Linked DNA regions of Homo sapiens. The protein of the gene in region 4 purifies or fractionates together with the protein of the main gene of each other region. This does not show direct contact. Each region holds a gene or a part of one and is shown on either strand. Other genes may lie near its edges. The genes, in order: TANGO6, CPNE7, NUDCD3, VWA2, CAD and ZNG1A.

What was found.
Region 1: the proteins of VWA2 (region 4) and TANGO6 purify together in Homo sapiens (affinity purification with mass spectrometry; one large-scale study listed by BioGRID and IntAct). This does not show direct contact.
Region 2: the proteins of VWA2 (region 4) and CPNE7 purify together in Homo sapiens (affinity purification with mass spectrometry; one large-scale study listed by BioGRID and IntAct). This does not show direct contact.
Region 3: the proteins of VWA2 (region 4) and NUDCD3 purify together in Homo sapiens (affinity purification with mass spectrometry; one large-scale study listed by BioGRID and IntAct). This does not show direct contact.
Region 5: the proteins of VWA2 (region 4) and CAD purify together in Homo sapiens (affinity purification with mass spectrometry; one large-scale study listed by BioGRID and IntAct). This does not show direct contact.
Region 6: the proteins of VWA2 (region 4) and ZNG1A purify together in Homo sapiens (affinity purification with mass spectrometry; one large-scale study listed by BioGRID and IntAct). This does not show direct contact.

What each region holds. Positions count from the first base shown.
Region 1 is NC_000016.10:69,077,531-69,081,030, reverse strand, and holds part of TANGO6 (transport and Golgi organization protein 6 homolog), read right to left. Parts: intron 1-3,500.
Region 2 is NC_000016.10:89,585,758-89,589,257, reverse strand, and holds part of CPNE7 (copine-7), read right to left. Parts: coding exon 3,473-3,500; intron 2,589-3,472; coding exon 2,502-2,588; intron 2,216-2,501; coding exon 2,156-2,215; intron 1,703-2,155; coding exon of another isoform or gene 1,664-1,702; exon of another isoform or gene 584-1,663; coding exon 450-583; intron 1-449. UniProt on the Homo sapiens protein: Calcium-dependent phospholipid-binding protein that may play a role in calcium-mediated intracellular processes.
Region 3 is NC_000007.14:44,480,659-44,484,158, forward strand, and holds part of NUDCD3 (nudC domain-containing protein 3), read right to left. Parts: intron 1-3,500.
Region 4 is NC_000010.11:114,280,754-114,284,253, reverse strand, and holds part of VWA2 (von Willebrand factor A domain-containing protein 2 precursor), read right to left. Parts: exon of another isoform or gene 2,630-3,500; coding exon of another isoform or gene 2,483-2,629; intron 1,742-2,482; exon of another isoform or gene 1,739-1,741; coding exon 1,683-1,738; intron 1-1,682. Other genes in the region: AFAP1L2 (actin filament-associated protein 1-like 2), read left to right, coding at 2,483-2,629.
Region 5 is NC_000002.12:27,230,869-27,234,368, reverse strand, and holds part of CAD (multifunctional protein CAD), read right to left. Parts: intron 2,902-3,500; coding exon 2,789-2,901; intron 2,390-2,788; coding exon 2,145-2,389; intron 1,922-2,144; coding exon 1,675-1,921; intron 1,328-1,674; coding exon 1,229-1,327; intron 1,058-1,228; coding exon 833-1,057; intron 744-832; coding exon 561-743; intron 362-560; coding exon 143-361; intron 1-142. UniProt on the Homo sapiens protein: Multifunctional protein that encodes the first 3 enzymatic activities of the de novo pyrimidine pathway: carbamoylphosphate synthetase (CPSase; EC 6.3.5.5), aspartate transcarbamylase (ATCase; EC 2.1.3.2) and dihydroorotase (DHOase; EC 3.5.2.3).
Region 6 is NC_000009.12:151,557-155,056, forward strand, and holds part of ZNG1A (zinc-regulated GTPase metalloprotein activator 1A), read right to left. Parts: intron 3,240-3,500; coding exon 3,153-3,239; intron 523-3,152; coding exon 478-522; intron 1-477. UniProt on the Homo sapiens protein: Zinc chaperone that directly transfers zinc cofactor to target metalloproteins, thereby activating them.

The DNA.
Region 1 (3,500 bases), on a different chromosome or scaffold from region 4:
GAGTAGCTGGGACTACAGGTGCCCACCACCACGCCTGGCTAATTTTTTGTATTTTTAGTAGAGACAGGGTTTCACCGTGTTAGCCAGGATGGTCTCGATCTCCTGACCTCATGATCTGCCCGCCTCGGCCTCCCAAAGTGCTGGGATTATAGGCGTGAGCCACCGCGCCCGGCCTAGAGGAAGGTTATTAGCCCCATCTTATATTTGCAGAAACAGAGGGTTAGAGGGTTGAGGTTACTCAGCTAAAAAAATGATGGAGCCAGGTTTCCAACATCCAGAGCCTGTGTTCTTATTTTTTATTTTTATTGAAAAGATAATACAGTACAAAAGAGTACATATTAAAAGGTAAGGCTCTGTTCTACTCCAGACTCCTAGCTGTTTCCCTTCTCAGAGGACATCATTCATATGAAGACATTTTCTAAGTGTTTACAAGCACACATGTGTATATTTCTGTTTCTTGTCCCCTCTCCCCCAGTTTTTTTAGACAGGGTCTCACTCTGTTGTCCAGGCTAAAGTACAGTAGTGCAATCATAGCTCACTGCAGCCTCAATCTCCTGGGCTCCAGCAATCCTCCATCTCAGCCTCCCAAGTTAGCTGGGACTACAGGCATACACCACCATGCTTGGCATTTTTATTTTTTTGCTATGTTGCCCAGGCTGGTCTTGAAATCCTGGGCTCAAGCAACCCTCCCACCTCAGAGGTAGGGATTACAGGCATGAGCCACCAAGCCCAGCCTTCCCTTACCTTTTTAAAGTACAAAATTATATTCTACGCTCTGTTGTGTACCATATTTTTTCCCCCACTTAACATGTTTTGTAGATCCTTTGTATAATTGGCACATATGGAAATAACTTATTTTTTATAGCTGCAGAGGATGAATGTAATGCAATTTATTTAACCATCTTTCCAATGAAAGTAATTTAAATTCTTTTTATCTTTTGCTATTGCAAATATTGCTGCAATAAACATTTTTTTGAAGATGGGGTCCTGCTATATTGCGCAGGCTGGTCTTGAACTCCTGGCCTCAAGTGATTCTCCCACCTCAGCCTCCTGAGTAGTCAAGATTAGAGGCATAAGCCACTGTGCCCAGTGCAATATGCATTCTGATACTTAGGTCATTACAGACATGTACAAGTATATCTGTAGGACAAATATCTAGAAATGGAATTTCTGGCTCAAAGGGTAATGCGCATTACAATTTTGATAGATATGGCCAGAGAGGTTCCAAGAATTTACATTTTCCTCAAACACTGTGAAAATTCCTGTTTCCCCATATTCTTATCAGTGCCATGTATTGTAAACTCCTTATTTTTGCTAATCCAGTAGAAAAAAATAGCATTTTGCTGTTATGAATTTGCATACTTCCAACAAATATATAAACATAAATTTGTATTTTTTTCTGGTATGTATAATTCAGCTTCTCCTTAATGATTCGTAAAAACTCCATTTTTTTTTAAGTCCATTATCTGTCATATGAGTTGCAAATATTTTTCTCCCAGTTGGCATTTTTTCTTTGTGAAATTTTTTATTCTGGTGAAGAAATTTCCATTTTTGATGTAGTTAAATTTATCAAATGTTTTCCTTTGTGGTTTCTGGATTTTGTGTTTTGCTTAAAAGAAATAGGGCCTATAATTTTAGCCATTATACTATGCGGTTTCTTTATTTTCTTTTATATTTATTTATTTATTTATTTATTTGTTTTTGAGACAGTTTTGCTCTTGTTGCCCAGGCTGGAGTGCAATGTGCGATCTCGGCTCACTGCAACCTCCGCCTCCCGGGTTCAAGCGATTCTCTTGCCTCAGCCTCCGGAGTAGGTGGGATTACAGGCATGCGCCACCATGCCCAGCTAATTTTGAATTTTTTAAAAAATAGAGACAGGGTTTTGCCATGTTGGTCAGGCTGGTTTTGCAATCCTGACCTCAGGTGATCCGCCCACCTTGGCCTCCCAAAGTGCTGGGATTACAGGCATGAGCCACTGCACCCAGCCTATATTTTATTTTTGAGACCAAGTCTCCCAGGCTGGAGTGCAGTAGCCGAGACGGGCAGATCACCTGAGCTCAGGAGTTCGAGACCAGCCTGGCGAACATGGCAAAACCCTGTCTCTACTAAAAATACACAAATTAGCTGGGCGTGGTGGTGCATGCCTGTAATGCCAGGCTGAGATAGGAGGCTGAGATGGGAGAATCACTGGAACCAAGGAGCTGGAGGTTGCAGTGAGCCAAGATTGCGCCACTGCACTCCAGCATGCGTGACAGAGCAAGACTCTGTCTCAAAAAATAAAAATAAAAATAAAATAAAATACAGAAACGTATATTTAACTTAGTCAACTCTACGCAAAGACTTTGTAAGGCCATTTAACAATGGAAACATCTAGATCTTGCCTTTAAAAGGCTTCTGGTCTAGTGGGGATGAATAAGAAGATAGTCACGTAAAGACAGACAATACAGAATAGAACATGGTAAAGGTCACAGGGAGCAGAGAGAGAGTGATGAGACATCAGAGAAAAGAGAGGCCACATTTTAGGAATAGGAAAGTTCACTGGAGATGGCGAATGGAAATGATGGGAAATAGTTAATTCAGCGGGTAACAAGCACATGGTCTGGGCCCAGAGTCCCCTGAGCATTCCACCAAGTAGACTGTGTCTAGCACCACGTGTCTTGGACTTGCTATAAGAAGAGAGCAAGAGCCTTTCCATCTTTCGATATTCCTGATCAGCATGGACACTGGGGAGTGAAGGCAGGAAGTCAGGGGAAAGGGCTACATAGAACAAGCTCCCCAGGCCGACCCTTCCCCACAGCGGGCCTCCCTCTGGCCGCCTGTGCTCCAGCTGTGCCGGCCTTCTTTCTTTTCTTGCCTGAACAAAGCTCCTCTCAAGGCCTTTGCATATGCTAGTCCCTCAGCCTGGGAGGCTATTAATATTTTGCTTCCTCTTCCTAGGACTCTTATACCCTTGGCCTCCGGGATTCTTTCCCTAACCCCCGCACCTAGGTAAGTCTTCCTGCCCTTCCCGGAGTTCTGTTTGTAGCCCCTATCAGGACTGTAATGTAAATATTTGTTGTGGGGCAGGCTGGTGGTATAAAAAATAAACAAATAAAAAATAAAATAAATATTTATTGTGTACTTTAAAAGGTTTTCCTCTCTAGATGGTAAGTACTATTGACACTGAGGCCATGTTTTGCCTTTTTTTCTTTTTTCTTTTTTGAGAAAGAGTCTCGCTCTGTTGCCCAGGCTTGAGTGCAGTGGCTCTATCTCAGCTCACTGCCAACCTCCGCCTCCTGGGTTCAAGCGATTCTTGTGCCTCAGCCTCCCGAGTAGCTGGGATTACAGGCACGTGCCACCACGCCCGGCTAATTTTTGTATTTTTAGTAGAGACAGGGTTTCACCATGTTGGCCAGGCTGGTCTTGAACTCCTGACCTGAAGTGATCCACCCATCTCAGCCTCCCAAAGTGCTGGGTGGGATTACAGGCGTGAGCCACCATGCCTGGCAGCCTTGCCTTTT
Region 2 (3,500 bases), on a different chromosome or scaffold from region 4:
TACAAAGGTGTGATCTTGACTCACTGTAACCTCCGCCTCCCGGGTTCCAGTGATTCTCCTGCCTCAGCCTCCTGAGTAGCTGGGATTACAGGCATCTGCCACCACGCCCAGCTAATTTTTGTATTTTCAGTAGAGATGGGGTTTCACCATGTTGGCCAGGCTGGTCTCAAACTCCTGACCTCAGGTGATCCACCCGCCTCGGCCTCCCAAAATGCTGGGATTACAGGCATGAGCTACCGCGCCCGGCCCCTCACAGTCTGACAAACTCACAGTGCCCACCTCATGGTGCCCCGAGGCCTGACCTGGAGCCCAGGGGGGTGAGGGAAAACCGGCCGGGTGCACCTGTCATAGCTGACCTGGAGACCAGGGGGGTGAGGGGGAAGACGGCCAGGCGCACCTGTCATAGCTGACCTGGAGACCAGGGGGTGAGGGGAAGGTGGTGGGCGCACCTGTCATAGTCCTGGCAGATCTCGCCCACGGACACCAGTGCCTTCAGGTACTCGTTCGGCTGGTAGGGGTTGATGTAGTGCAGGGAGCAGCTGTTCCGCGGGTCTCCATTGGAGGCGGTGAAGTCAATGGCCACCTGCAGTGGGCCGGGAGCCAGGAGCTGTGCTGGGCCGGGGCTCCCCGAACCCGCTCCTGACAGGTAGAGAAACCACGCCCAGAGTGGCCAGGACTCAGGGTCAGGGGTCGCGTAGGTGGGTAGGGCTGGGGGGCTGCTGTTGGGGCTGACCCACCTGCTACACAGGGCCAGGAGAGGTCTCCTCAAAACCTGCCAGCCCCTAGGCTCCCTGGATCTCCGGGAGGACACCCCACCAGGATCACCCTGGCCTTGTGGGGGCCCCGCCCATCCTTCTTAGTGGCCGCCCAACCCCTCTACCACCCTCCCCGGCAGGGCCTAAGTGGACCAAGCCTGGTCTGGGTCCCCCCACGTTTCCCACTTGCTGGCTTCTCCCAAAGCCATTCTGGGGCTCGTTCAACAAAACACGAACCAGCGCATCTGCAAATAACACGCGGGTGACACGGGGGCCGTGTATCTGTGGGTGACACGCGGGTGACACGGGGGCCGTGTATCTGTGGGTGACACGCGGGTGACACGGGGGCCGTGTATCTGTGGGTGACACGCGGGTGACACGGGGGCCGTGTATCTGTGGGTGACACGGGGGCCGTGTATCTGTGGGTAACACGGGGGGCCGTGTATCTGTGGGTGACACGCGGGTGACACGGGGGGCCGTGTATCTGTGGGTAACACGGGGGGCCGTGTATCTGTGGGTGACACGGGGGCCGTGTATCTGTGGGTAACACGGGGGGCCGTGTATCTGTGGGTGACACGCGGGTGACACGGGGGCCGTGTATCTGTGGGTGACACGCGGGTGACACGGGGGGCCGTGTATCTGTGGGTAACACGGGGGCCGTGTATCTGTGGGTGACACGCGGGTGACACGGGGGGCCGTGTATCTGTGGGTGACACGGGGGCCGTGTTTCTGTGGGTGACACGCGGGTGACACGGGGGCCGTGTATCTGTGGGTGACACGGGGGTGCTATGGGGGTGACACGGGGTGTGCGTATCTATGGGTGACGCGGGGTCTGCGGGTGACATGGGGGTGACACGGGGTCTGTGCCGGGCTCCTTGGATGACACGTAGAGACTGTGGCTGGTTCACTCAAACGCTCACTCCAGTTTCTCCTCGTTCACGTTTTGTCTGTTGTTAAATGTGTTTGTGGAAGGTAAGCCCTGGTGATGTCACCTCCCAAGGCGGGCTTGGGGCTGCTTCCTGAACCCCAAGCCCGTTTCCTCGCCTGCGCAAAAGGGAGGACCCCCAGGAGCCGCGCATGGAGACATCGGCTCACGGGGAACCGCCAGTGCCCTTTCACCCGCCAGGCTGGGACCCCTCGGGAGCGGGGCGGGGGCGGGGGCGGGGGCGGGGCCACGGACTGAGGGGGCGGGGATGGGCGGGGCCACAGACTGAGGGGGCGGGGATGGGCGGGGCCACAGACTGAGGGGGCGGGAGGGGCGGGGCCACGGACTGAGGGGGCGGGGATGGGCGGGGCCACAGACTGAGGGGGCGGGGAGGGGCGGGGCCACGGACTGAGGGGGCGGGGCGGGGCGGGGCCACGGACTGAGGGGGCGGCATGGGGCGGGGCCATGGACTCACGGTGAAGTGGATCTGGCAGCCGCCCATGATATAGTCCAGGAAGGAGTACACCCTGTGGAACTTCCGGCCGGCGGAGTCAGCGTCCACCCCCGCCAGGGACACTGAGGCCAGTGCCAGCTGGGATCCAGGCCTGCCTCCCGCAGGCAGCCCAGTCCCTCTGGGGTGCCACCCTCCTCTCCTCTCCCCCATCCTCTCTCCCCAACCTCGCCCTTCCCCGTCTCTCAGCCCCTCCCCAGACGTGCTGGGGCCCACCAGGCCTCTGGTTGAGGGTCCATCCAACAATCAGAGGGAGGCAGCGGAAGCCCCTCTTGTGGGTGGGGAGGCTTCGGGCACAGCCACCTCTCACCTTGAGGTCAGCCAGGACGACCACTCCTGAGTTCTTATAACTGCGTCTCTTCTGCTTGTATTTGGGGTTCACACAGTCCCACTGGGCCTGGGGCAGGAACAAGCAGAGGCCCCCCAGAGTGGTGGCTCTGAACACCTACCAGGGAGACCCTACCCAAGACCATCCCCAATAGCGACGGCAGAGGGCCCCGTGGTGGGGAGGGGAGGGGAGGGCACTGCTGCAGGGCAGCAGGAAGGGGCAGAGTGGGTCATACGGGAATGAAGAGGGATGGGAGTTGCATCCCCCACCCGGCATGGCCCTGTCATTAAGCCCAAGGACACTGAGGCCCAGGGACGGGGGAGGAAGCAGGGCCCAGGGTGGCCTCCCCACTGCACCCTCACCCGGCTGCTGTGGGCTGGGCAGACACAGGGGAGGGCACCCCTTGGCCCCACCTCCCACCACCCCTGTGCCCAGACCCAGATGGTGCCTGAAATGTCCAGCTGAACCTGATGGGGGCCACCCCTGCTATGACCCCTCAGGAGCCAGCACCAGGGTCCACCATCCTCAGCCTTCTCTGGTTATAACAAGTCATTGTCACCACTCCCCACAACCCCATCAGGACAGTGGGACAGGGTTTCACAGCCTCTGTGGCAGGGCCAACACAGGCGTAGCCCAGGTGTGCCCCCGACTCACCTGCCCCTCCCCAGAGGCCCCCCTCACCTGCCCCTCCCTGAATGCCCCCTCCCCCTGCTAACTGCCCCTCCCTGGAGGCCCCCCTCACCTGAACCTCCCCAAAGGCCCCCCCAACCTGCTCCTCCCCAGAGGTGCCCACCCACATGCCCCTCCACGGAGGCCCCTACCCCACCCCCCACCTCCTCACCTGACACTTCCTGGAGGTACCCCCCCAGTCCTGCTCACCTACCCCTCCCCGAAGGCCCCCCTCCACCCCCACCTGACCCTCCCTGGAGGACCCCCTACCCCGTCCTGCTCACCTGCCCCTCCTCAAAGGCCTTCTGCATC
Region 3 (3,500 bases), on a different chromosome or scaffold from region 4:
TGGCCAGGCATGGTGCCTCACACCTATAATCCCAGCACTTTACGAGGCTGAGGCGAGTGGATCACTTGAGCTCACCAGTTCGACACCAGCCTGGGCAACATGGTAAGACCCTATCTCTACAAAAAATACAAAAATCAGCTGGGCAAGGTGGTGCACGCCTGTAGTCCCAGCTACTTGGGAGGCTGAGGTGGGAGGCTCGCTTGAGCTCAGAAGGCAGAGGCTGCAGTGAGCCAAGATCATGTCACTGCATTCCAGTATGGGCAACAGAGCAAGACCCAGTATCAAAAAAAAAAAAAAAAAAAAAAAAAATCCAAAAATTTGAAAAAAAAAAAAAATGGATTGTTTTGTCTGTGCTGAACATGTACAAACTTCTTGTCATTATTCCCCAAATAATACAGTGTAACAACTATTTACATAGCATTTACATTGTATTAGGGATTGTAAGTAATCTAGACATAATTTAAAGTCTATGGGAGAATGTGCATAGGTTATACACAAATATTATACTGTTTTATATAAGAGACCTAGACATCCATGAATTTTGGTATCCACGAGGGACCAGGAACCAATCCCCTGCAGATACCAAGGGATAAGTGTATTTATTAAGAGAGTTACTGCAAGAAATTGGCTTACATGATTGTGGGGGCTGGCTAGGCCAGTCTGAAATCCACATAGCAGGCCAATGTGGAACTCTCCAGAAACTGAGTGCAGCTGCTGTCCATCGGAGAAATTTCTTCTACTTCAGGGGAGCTCTGCTGCGCTCTTCAGGCTTTCAGCTGATAGATCAGGCCCACTCAGATCACCTAGGACAATCACCCTTACTTAAAGTCAACCAATTATTAACTTGCATCACATCCACAAAATACCTTGACAGCCATGCCAAGATGAGTGTTTGACTGAATAACCAGGACTGTAACTTAGCCAAACTGACAAATGAAACTGACCATCACAATAACCATGTCAGTAGTCTTTAAAAGCATTTTATAAATGTATTTCTCCATTCCCTTACTACAGAAATTCAGCATTCTTCCAAAATTTTGCTAATATAAGTAATGTTGGAATAAATAGAACTGAAGTGAACAATGCTATAGACTGAATGTTTGTGTCCCAAAATTCCTACGGTAAATCTTAATCCCAAGATATTGGGATGAGTACTTTGGGAGGTGATCAGGGCTCTGCCTTCATGACTGGAATTAGTGCCCTCATAAAAGATTTGAGAGAGTTCTCTCACCTCTTCCACCATTTGAGGACACAGCAAGGTAACTACGAATCAGAATGTGGGCCCTCACCAGACACTGAATCTGCCAGTACCTTGACCTTAGACTTCCAGTATCCAGAACTGTGAGCAATAAATTTATGTAGTCTATAAGCCACCCAGGCTATATTATTTTGTTATAGCAGCCTAAGTGGACTATGACAAACAACTTTGTATATTAAATCTTCATTCTTACATCTGATTATTTTACAGAAAGACTACTAGTAAGGAGGCTGCGCATAGAAAGAACTCCAAAAAACCTCATAGGATCCCCTTGAGTCTTTGGCTGAATACAAAACTGCACATGTGTAAAGTGCAACTCCATGAGACAAGTAGGAAACCTGGGTAACTGACATGGACAATCCCTAGAGCTGGGAGACGTTCAAGCCTCAACCAGTCAGAATGGAAAGACCTCACTAACAGCTGGAGCACTCAGAAGCCCCAAAAAGGCATGTCTTAGAAGACTAAGCTAGCTTTAAAATAAAAGTACCCTAGATACAGCTTAACAAAGCTGAAAAACAAGGCCAGACACATTGGTGCACACCTATAATCCCAGCACTTTGGTAAGCAAAGGTGGGAAGATCATTTGGGACCAGGAGTTCGAGATTAGCCTGGGTAACATATTAAGACTCCATCTCTACAATCAATTGATCAATCAATACAAATAAAAAACAAGCTTCAAAAAGATCATTCTGATCAGCAAATAAATTAATTGCCTGCAAGAACAAAACTCAACACTCAACAGAAGAAATCAAAACCCAGAGACTCGACAGCATAACATCCATTAATGTCTAGCATCCAATAAAAAATTATCAGACATTTGAAAGAAAAAGAAAATGTAACCCAAAATCAGGAGAAAACTCAATCCCTAGAAACAAACCAAGAAATCACAGAGATAATGGAATTAGCAGATAAAGACTTTAAACTATTGTAAGTATATTGAAGGATTTAAAGGAAAACCAAGGTAGAAATTGAAGCCATAAAAAACAATCAAGGGGAACCTGCAGGGCTAAAAAATAAACTATCTGAAATTAAGAAGTTACTAGATGAGTTTAACTACAGATTAGACACCAAAGGAGAAAAGACAGTAAAGTTGAAGACAGGTCAACAGAAAATATTCCAAAGGAAGGACAAAGAGAAAACAGACCTCCTAAGTGTGTGTGTGTGTGTGTGTATGTGTGTGTGTGCTCAAAAGTCTCCCAATAGTATAAACACAAGGACTATCATGCATGAGTAAATCTTAATCAAATTGCTCAAACTAATGATAATAACTTCAAGGAACTGATATAACAAGAGAATGGGGATATTTCACACACAGGGGAACAAAGAATGTCTACTCACTTCTCATCAGAGACAGTGCAAGCTAGAAGACAATGGAATGATAGTCTTTAAAATGTTTGAAGAAAAACAAAAACAAAAAAAAAGTGTCAACCTGCAATTCTATATCCAGCAAAAATATCCTCAGAAATGGAAGATGAAATAAAGGCATTTTCAGACAAAAAAGCTGAAAGAATTCACTATCAGCAGATCTGCACTATAAAAAATATTTTAAAAAGATCTGCAAGGAAATATCAGATGTCTGCCTTCCACCCTATACTCCCCACTTCCAATCTCTAAATCCTTATTTCACCCCTTCTCATCCAGAGCTCCATATTCAAGAGCTGCTCCCCTTCTCCATCAGCTTGGTTCTGCCATCAAACAATTGTTTTCTTCGAACTCCATTAGTTAGCCTGGACTTTAAGACTCTGCAATCTTGCCCCTCCTGTCTTTACAAAACTTATTTTCTCTTACTCCATATTTTATAAGCCATTCCAAGTTGTTCACTTTGCTTCATTAACTAGAAAAAAAAACAAAAACTCCCCCACAGCCTAGGCAATACAGCAAGAAAATATTTTTAAAATTTAGCCAGGTATAGTGGCAGACATCTCTACAAAAAATTACAAAATTAACCAGATGTGGTGGTGCATGCCTATGGTCCCAGCTACTCAGGAGGCTGAGGCGAGAGGATTGCTGGAGCCCAAGAGTTCAATTCATATATTGCGCTATGATCACACCACTGCACTCCAGCCTGGCCAACAGAGTAAGATCCGGTCTCTATTAAAAAGTGTGCACGCACACACACAATCTCCCCCAAAACACGTCAGAAAGAGAGTAAAGGAGTGAGAAAAACAGAAGAGAACTCAAGGTGGCAGGGATTTGGGGGCACACAGGTGACCCATCCTATCAAGGAGGGAAGAGAGTGAAT
Region 4 (3,500 bases):
AATGACAGTATTGACTTTTGGATGTGAGATGCAAATTATGAGCAAGGCCTCTTCAAAGCTGAAAGTTTACATGGGAAACCACAGCCTGTGTCAAAATGTGGCCCATTCTGAAGCGTCTGATCTATGATTCCCTGTGGTCCATGCCTGAGCATCTCATTGCTTTCCTTATCAATTATTACAAAGTGCAGCTAAAACCACATGACCTCCTTCCCAGGGTTACAGAAAACAAACAAGGTCTTCATGTGATCATGTATTCCAAGAGCTGGATAAGCAGCTGAGTGTGGTCACAACTGGGACTGGCATTTTCTTGTCCTTTTTGCTTACAAATATTAATCTCTTTCTTGATGGCCACATCATTGTAATTAAAATATAGACTTTTCAAAGGCAGAAAAGATTGAGGCTAAGTCTAGGCACTTCGCTGGGGCTGCTGTTGTATCAGCCAGAAGACTGTGGAAATAGCTGGGGGCTCACTGAGATCGACGACAGTGGCCTTTAACTGAGCATCTATTATGTGCCAGGGACTGTGCTAAGCACAATACACGCATGGTCCCATTTCATTGTCACAACCTTAGGTAGGAACTATAAAAACCCTATATGACAGATGAGGAAGCTGAAGCTCAATGAATAGAAGTCACATGCCCCAGGTCAGATCATTGGTAAGAGGCAAAGCTGGGACTGAAAGCCATTTCACTCTAGTTTCCAAACCGGAAGTCCTCAAACCCTAATTTCTGAGCAGAAACAGCTCCACTCTCAGATTCTCCTGTGCTTCAGAGGCCGTGGTGCTGGAACTGTAAACCTTGTGAACATACTGAAGGGATCACCTAACCCCAAATAGGGACACTCGCTACCCTGCCTGTGTGTCTAACTGCTCGCTACCCTGCCTGTGTGTCTAACTGCTCGCTACCCTGCCTGTGTGTCTAACTGCTCGCTACCCTGCCTGTGTGTCTAACTGCTCGCTGCCCTGCCTGCCTGTGTGTCTAACTGCTCGCTGCCCTGCCTGTGTGTCTAACTGCCGGCATTGCTTCCGGGAGACAGGCTACTCATCGGGAGTAACAAATCCACCCCAGGACTGACACCTACACATTGAAGGGCAATTTCAAGCTCCCAGGTCAGTGGGGTCACTAGCACCCCAAGTGAGGGATAGTGAGGGCACACTGGTGAACCATGCTGAATGATGCATAATGGCATCGATGATTCCTCACGTTAATTTGGGATTTTACAGCTGAGGGATTACTTCCATGGGCATTATCTACTGAATCTTCACTAGGACCTCATATACGATGACCCCCTTTCACATGGAGGAGGGAAATGGGCTTCCAGACATCGGACAAACCACTATGTTTTATAGAGGAGGAAATCACTCAGATATCTTGCCCTGAGTTTGGTGCTGGCTTTGAGGATGTCTGCAAAGCTGGTGCTCGGTGCCTGCCTCTCTGCCTCTCACCAATGCACACAACACTGGTTCAGGGGAGTAATCCCAAAGCCGCCACTCCATTCTTAATGAGCAAACACCATTGAGGGAGTCAAGAGCACACTCTCCTCTGCCCCCCAAGTGCCCCATCCCTCTGCCCTGGAGCCAGTCACAACCCCACCCTCTGTCCCAGGATTGTAAAAGCCACTTTACAAAGCAGCCTGGGCCCAGGGCCCTGAAAGAACCTGTAAATCCAAGAGACAGACCATACCTGGGCAGGTGGTCCTGTAGCAGGTGGCAGGGTGGGTTAGGAACACTCTCTTCCAGCTACAATCCAAGGAAACAGAATTATAGACAGATCAGAGGTGTAAGGGGAGGGCAGAAAACAGAAGATGATTTACAACACCAAAAGCTGATAGAAGATTCCAATGCAGAAGTAAGAAAGACTTCCTGGTTTTGTTTCTTGATTCTACCCTAACTTTTCTCTGCACATAGAGTAGGGAATGTTTCAAACTATCCAGTGACAATTAAAAAAAATAGGCTGGGAGTGGTGGCTCACGCCTGCAATCCCAACACTTTGGGAGGCCAAGGTAGGCAAATCACTTGAGGTCAGGAGTTTGAGACTAGCCTGGCCTACATGGTGAAGCCCCGTCTCTACTAAAAATACAAAAATTAGCTGGGCGTGGTGGCATGTGCCTGTAATCCCAGCTTAGCAGGCTGAGGCAGAAATGCTTGAACCCAGGAGGCAGAGGTTGCGGTGAGCCGAGATTGCACAACTGCACTCCAGCCTGGGTAACAGAGTAAGACTCCATCTCAAAAAAAAAAGGTAACATAAGCTGGCTATCACATTTGAAATTAGGGACATCCACATGCAAAACCCCAAACTGTAGCAACAGCTTTTTATTATAAGTTACTTTCTGAGGCTTACGATGCAGTAGGGAGAGAAATATTGGGAACTGGGCAACTGGATTTTGGCTGTGTGACCACAGACATGTTACTTTCCTCCTCTGGTCTTCACTTTCCTCTTTGTATAGTAATTCTATCTTCACTTTTCAACTGTATTCCTTAAAGCTTCGATGGGGAGAGAAGAGCACTGAAGGAGCAAGGCTCCAGGCCTCCCGCAGTGCCCCAGCCCCGCCCCTCCACCCCAGGTGTGCTGCTACTATCTGGTCCACACAACAAGTGTCCACACGAGGCTCTGCAGGTCAAGACATGTAAGCCACTGGACTCAATGACTTCTCAGGTCTGCTGGAGAACTAACGTTCTGTGATAACACAGCAGCCACCATTCCTTGGGTGGCTTCCACCTGCTGGTGTTCCATGAACCACAGCTACCTGAAGAGATGGTTCCCTCCATGTTCCAGATAGGGAAATGGGTTCTGAGGGCTCACTTAGGGCCCCTGAGGTCACATAATTACCGGAACACAGCAGAGCTGGGATCCAAACCCTGACCATGACTCCAAATCCCCCCACTCTACCCTGTGGGCCTCACCCTCGCCTCTCCTGCGTCTCCGGGGCCATGTGCCCTGCTGTCACAGGAGCGGTTCCTCATCTGGGGGCAGAAAGCCCCACTCTGGGTTGGCAGCAGCTCCTGGGATGGCCTCACCTGAGGAGACTCTTGGGCCTTGGCAGAAACATTCCCTAAAGTTCTCCAAATAAGGCTTCTTCCAACAAGATCCCACCCTGGGCTGCCCACACAGGGGCAGGCCAATCAGGTGCTCCTCTAGGGCAGGGTCTTCCCTGGGGTAAAATGGAGTACACGCCAAGTCAATTCAGAGCTCATGGAGTTGCTGAAATAAAGGTTGCCAAGGCTGGGCGTGGTAGCTCACGCCTGTAATCCCAGCACTATGAAAGGCGGAGGCAGGAATTGAGCTCAGGAGTTTAAGACCAGCCCGGGCAACATAGTGAGACCCCATCTATAAAAAAAAATCTTAAAAATTAGCCGGCCACGGTGGTGCGTGTCTGTAGTCCCAACTACTTAGGAGGCTGAAATGGGAGGATCACTTGAGCCTGGAAGTTTGAGGCTGCACCAAGCCATGATTCTGCCACTGTACTCCATCCTGGTGACAGAGCAAGACCTTGTCTCAAAA
Region 5 (3,500 bases), on a different chromosome or scaffold from region 4:
AGCTCTAGCTACAGCCCTTTCCCTCCAGCTTCCCTGCCTACTTGGATGAAGGCAGGAGACAGTGCAGGGCTTCATGGCACTGTGGCCAGCACAGAACATGCAAGAGCTGTGGCCCTTTAGTTCTTTCCTTTAGCCTTATTACCTTGGCAATGAGCTGCAGATTGAAGGGTCCTGTGACCTGTAGCTCCTGGCCCACAGCATGCACAATGGCTTTGATCCGCTCCAGGGTTTTGGCAGTGATATCTTGTGGGGGGGTCACCAGCGTCGCATCACCTGAATGCACACCTGCATTCTCCACATGCTCAGAGATGGCGATGGCTGCCACCACACCATCAGAGGCCACGGCATCCACGTCAATCTCCTAGCGGGGGGACACAGACAGTGGGACATAGGGCCACTTTCTTCTCTCACTTACTCTAGGATTGTCTCTTCCTTTAACGAGCCCCACATAGCCCACTGTTCCCAGCCCTGGTGCCTATGATTCTGCTGGACCAGAGAAGGAAGTCTCCTCCAGGGCTGGCAGCATGCCCTCAGAGACTTCACTGTCTGCAGCCTCCCACCTTAGCCTCCTGGATGAACTTGGAGATGACCACGGGATGCTCTTTGGAGACGGCTGCTGCGCTGCTCAGGAAGCGCTCCAGGTCTCCATCCGTGTAGGCCACATTCATAGCAGCACCGCTCAGCACATAGGAGGGGCGCACCACACAGGGGTACCCCACGGTCTGGCAGAATTGGCGAGCAGACTACAGGAGGCAGGGAGCTTAGCTGAGTTGTTCACACTTTCCCCCAAGCATCATCCAGCCTCCGGGTAACCCACCAGGTCCCAGCCCACCTCGAGGTCACTGAGCTCCCTCCACTGAGGCTGGCTGATACCAATGGTGTCAAGGAGCCGGGAAAACTTGAAACGGTTCTCAGCCGAGTCAATGGCTTCAGGGGAGGTGCCCAGCACCCGGCACTGCTGCCGATGCAACGCCATGGCCATGTTGTTGGGCAGCTGTCCACCCATGGATAGGATCACACCTTCAGGGTTCTCGAGCTCATAGATGTCCATCACCACCTACGTTGCAGGGGGAGAAACAAGTGGTGGCAGCAAAAGAGGGCAGGAATCTGAGCCTTCCTGCTCACTGCTTCCCTCAGCCGCCACCAAGTTTCAAAGAATCTTAGGTCAGCCAGCTGTTCTACTCGACCCTGGCCACTCAAGCTACCAGGAAGCCTCCATCTCCCTCACCTCAAAAGAGATCTCATCAAAGTAGAGTCGATCACACATGTCATAGTCGGTGCTGACTGTCTCTGGGTTATAGTTCACCATGATGGTCTTATATCCCATCTGCAAGAGGGAGGGGAAGGGTACTTAGCAGTCAGGTGGGAGGAAAATCGTGGAGAAAATCGTGGAGAAACTAAGCCAAAGCCCCTACTTCAGAGACTGCCAGCACAGCTTCCTCTGAAAGAGCTGTACAGGACCCCTGCCTTGGGAGGGAAGGAGGTACAAAGTGTTGGGGAAGAGATTCATATACCGTGTGGGGCATGAGAGATGGCCTAAAAGGACCCCCACCCCAAAGCTCTATGACCAAAGTAAGGGACGGCAATTAATAGGAAATGCCAGGATTAGTGCCAAGCAATTGCTAGAGATGAACAGAATAGCAAGGAAAGTGGAAAGAAAATGAACTCTCTGACCTTTCGGAGCTGCTGGATGCAGCCTACAGCACACCAGTCAAATTCAACGCTAGAGCCAATACGGTAGACGCCAGAGCCAAGGACTAGGACATGAGGTGTTCGAAAGGTGAGGTCATGGGTGGTGCCCCAATACGTTAGGTATAGGTAATTTGTCTGGGCTGGCCACTCAGCTGCAACTGTGTCAATCTGTTTCACTGCTGGACAGATCCCCAGTTCCTGACGCAGCTTGCGAACAGCCAGCTCTGTGCTAAAATAGAAAAAGGGTCTGAAACACAGGCCCAGAGAGTAGGGTACAGACTGATAGAGGGTTGAGACCCCAGGGCACAGATGAGAGGAAATATCCTTGGAACCAAGGTCAGAAGCCTCTAAAGCTCTCCCACACTCTCCTTCCTCCCTCCCAAGGGTCCCTCACTGATACAAAGGTTCTGCCCCACATTTCCCAGCCGGAAGCTCTCATTGCCACCTCTGACCTCAGAACTGCAAGGGCAATCTGTTTGTCTGAGAAGCCAAGACACTTGGCCTGTTGCAGCAGGTCTGGCGGCAAAGGCTGTCCACGGTGTTGTTCTAGCAGCTGGGCATGTGCGATGATACGCTTCATTCGGTGCAGGAACCAGCGGTCGATGCGTGTGAGCTCATACAGGCGGTCCACTGAATAACCAGCCCACAAAGCAGCTGCCACCACAAAAATCCGCTTATCTGTTGGAGTCTCCAACTCCTGATAGAAAGGGGGTAGACAGACGGAAGCTACTGCCAGCCCATCTAAAAGCCTGAGCGTAAGTAGCTGCTCTTGTCTCAGGAAGGGGAAACTGTACACCAGAGCACAGGCTGTGTAACTGCAAAAACCTGGATACCAATCCTGGGTCTACCTCTCATTGGCTATGTGGCTTTGAGTAATTTCTATAACCTATGTCTCAGTTTCCTCATCTGTAAAAACAAGTCTAGTAATACACCCTTGCGTGCTAATGAGACATCTCAAAATTCTCAGCAAAGTGGAAACAAAGCAAATGTCCAATGATGACTGCTGCTAGTGTTACTGGTAACAAGCTCATGGTCTGGGGGCGATGAGAAGCAGGGTCTATTTTAGGGGTATTGCCAGGGGAGGGGAGCTACTTACCATATCGCTGACTGGTTTCACTGTGTGATCAAAGCCCACACAGTTCTCATCCACCATGCGCAGGGCCTTCTGGAAGGCCTCCTCAAATGAACGCCCAATGCCCATGACTTCACCTGGAAGAACAGAATGGAAGGAATGAAGGTGTGGAGGTGGAAGGGGTGGGAAGAAGGCACTGCCCATAATGCTTATGGTTTATAGTCAAGACTCTGGGAGATTCTCAAGGCAAGTCACATGATGGTGGGATTCATGGTGTTTCACAACTAAGAAATCTTAATGGCCGGGCGCAGTGGCTCACGCCTGTAATCCCAGCACTTTGGGAGGCTGAGGCGGAAGGATCACGAGGTCAGGAGATCGAGACCATCCTGGCTAACATGGTGAAACCCCGTCTCTACTAAAAATACAAAAAAATTAGCCGGGAGTGGTGGCGGGCGCCTGTAGCCCCAGCTACTCCAGAGGCTGAGGCAGGAAAATGGCGTGAACCCGGGAGGTGGAGCTTGCAGTGAGCAGCGATCACACCATTGCACTCCAGCCCGGGGAACAAAGCGAGACTCCGTCTCAAACAAAACAAAACAAACAAACAAACAAAAAGAAATCTTAACTTATAGCTCTTTTCCCTGCTATTTTCATGGATAAGCTCAGGCTTTGTGCTTATTGATGAATATGGAATCAATATGCCTAAAACGGGCATGGGGATACTGGAATATATCCCCAT
Region 6 (3,500 bases), on a different chromosome or scaffold from region 4:
GATGTTTTAGGAACAGAACCTAGAGAAAATGAAAGTCAAAATTTAATAAAAGAATTTGTCAGGAACTTCAAGGTAAAGACTCCATGTATTTTTTGGCAACTATAAAACACTAAGAAGGCTTTTTAAATATTAAAAAGCCATTTAAACACTTCAAATTAAGATTCCTCAATATACTTCAGATTTCTGTACTGAGTTACCCTCTCGAGTGTTTGGAAGTCTTTTCTTCCTCATTAAGCAAACACTTACACAGTGTTATCATGGCTTTGTATTCTTAGTTTTGAAGACAGGCAAATGTACTAGCCAAATATGCCAAACTAACTTATTAAGAGCATTCCAAACAACATTTTGGATCCAATTCTTTTTAAATGCACTTAGATCTTTCTTATATTAGAATCAAGCATATTTGTCAATTATTTAATGTTTATTATTAATAACTAAAATGATTTGTTATTAATAGGAATAGCTTTTTTAAAGTACCTTGATCTTTGTGTTTCTAAGATTTGTCCTAGTCCATTTATGGATCTGAAATAAATAATAAATGAGGAAGACAAAGTTTAAAAGTAAAAATTAACTTTTTAAAAAAGTATACAAAGTATATTGTTTCTAAAACAGGAAATAAGCATACCCAAATACATCTGGAACCAGAAAAAAATTAAAAACAGAAAAACAAAACTTGCTTTAAAAAATAATTGTGATTTTCCTTCAAACAATAAATCACATATATTCCACTCATACATTAATAAAACATATATGCAAAAATTCGCACAACTGTCAGATTAAGGGCTACTTTGTGGTTAATAAAAAGACACTTCACTTTAGAAAAAATCATTCATAAATAGTCAGTTATCCTAGTGTTCTTAAAAATGAGTAGATACTCAAAATTTTTACGGTGGTCACTTTTTTCCTCAGGCATACATGGTAGAAATGGCTATATACACACTAAAAATAAAAACCTAGTTGCAAGTTGCTTTGCCCCCAGCCTGTCCTTAGTATTCACAGTAATTCTAAGTCACACATCCCAGGTTCCTTTATAGAATAACCTCGTCAGTTACCTAATTAGGCTCTCTACCCGTTATGCCTGTTCTCCCTCTTTTGATACTATAGAATATGGCTTCGTATGGCACCAAAAAGTACCTGTTAAATTCTTTTCAACACACTGTACACCTCATCTATTTATCTTTTCCATTGCCTATCATCAATCATCAATTCTCTATCATGAATTCAATTGTCTTTAGGGTTACTTACCCAAGATTCTTGCTACTTGTTCAAGTTTGTTCTCATGGGTAAGGCTTCCCACATATAATGATTCTGAGGCAAGTCTCTCCACTATTTTACAAAATTCTTAAATCTTCTTTTTTGAATACACTCTAGTCTGATGGCTAATTCCTCTCAAACATGTTTACCTTTTTTCACCTCCCCAAATATCATTCTGAGTCAGTCACAAGTCTGATATAAAGGGAGGGTAAAAGCCAAAAGGGTGTGTAATTTATCAAATTGCTTCTTCCAAATTCATTTCTAGTACTGTTAACAAGCTGGCTAATAGTCAATATTGTCAGTGTCAGAGATTTAGCTTAGGTCTCTATAAGGATATAAAAGTCAAGTAATAATTATCATTCCTTTTATGCCAAAAACATTTGCTAAATAGATTGTGTTCTTCTTAGCAATCACAATGGTGCACAAGATTTATGAAGAGAAACAAGATTAGAAGACCAGTGTCAAAAAATGTAAAAGCAATCTTCATTCATCACTTTCTCCTTTTCAAAATCAGCCATCTTTTTCTTTCTTCCCTTTTTTACTATACCTTGAACTTACTATGTAAGCTAAGAAAAAAATTACATAATAATAGCTAACAGAGCACTTACTATGTGTCAGCACTGTGCAAAGTTTACCAACATTGTCTCATGTAATACTCAAAGCAAACTTATGATAGGCATTATGCCTTTTACAGAGGAGGCTTTAAAAGGGTAAATAAGCTCCCTAAGAAGACAATGAGAAACAGACCAAGGATTAGAACCCAAGCAGATTCCAAGGTCTGTGATCTTCAACACTACGCAACAATACCTACCCTCCACGTGGAGACATTATATTTTTTTATAGTAAAGTTTAAGGACATTACTATTAAAATAAGATGAAATATGTGGAAAAAATATGAATTTCTTTCTTCCACAATCATTAATCATGGCAAATAATCTCCTAATGAGCCTTACCTTTATTGATTCAATTGATAATATATACTATATGAACTGAGATGACAGATTCAAAATCTAATGTCAGTAGAACTTATAAATACTAAGAATAGTAATTTTGAGCCATCACGCTCAAAGCATTGTACACATTAAAGATAACCAATACTAATAGCTACCGAATGTCTCTCTGTATAGGGCTTTTATTAGTTCAGGTCTTACAAAATAATTCAAAACAAAGCCCCTGAACTATAACCTCATTTGAAAAGCCCATCTTTGTTTTCAAAAGGAATGGGAGTCTCCAGAACAGTCAGCAAAATGACTGTTAGCACATATTTGAGCATCATTCATATTGTCCTGATTGTCCTATGCTGATCAGCCTTGGCTATGGACAAAGAAGATATTAAAGCAAGCTGGAAGACAAGGCATGGTTGACAGTTAAGGAAGATGAAGTCAACAAGAGTTCAGGGAAAACTGAGACCACTTGAGTCAGGGAAGACTTCACATAGGAAGGGGGGAGAGACAGAATAGGCTCTATAGAATAAATTAAAAAAAAAAAAAGCAGAACAAGAAAGAACTCAGGGATTGGCAGAGTGAGAATACATTACGAGTAAAGACAGGAACTGACAGGATGCATCCATGGGAAAGTGAATTAACCATCCTGGGTAAAGTTAGGGAAGACTGACATTAGGAAAGAGTCAAAGAGAAGACAGGAAAAGAAAGATGGAGTGCGAAGACCCTGAATATCAGTCTATTAACTGTGAACTATATTCTGCAAGCACTGGGGACTAATTTTATGTATTACCATTTATATAACAATTAGCCATCAACAATATATGTGATTCCCTAACGTTCTTGAAGCAGCTCAACCTTATACCTTAAGTTTCTACAGGGCAACAATCAGAGTAAAAAATATTCTGTGTATACAACATGGATCTGTAGGCACTTAACACACTTATCATTTCGTACCTAATTGTCGTTCTTAATTTCTTTACATCTTCTTCTGGAACCAGGTCTGTTTTATTAATGAGAATGGCATCTGCCAAAGCAACTTGTCTAAAATAGCAAACAGAGAAATGTTAAGAAACTTTAAATAATATACACGCATGCAGATTAATACATCAAAAGAGGAATGTTAACAAATCAAAAATAAATAAAAACGCCTCATGTAGATCAATATATCAGTTAAGAATTATCTAGTGCTCTATAGGAGTGACTCAGTTTACTCCTAATCCGCTAATTTTTCAATGTGGATGAATTGTGTTCATTACTATGCAAGTTCAGATTTCACATTACCCATTCGCAAAGTATTTACTA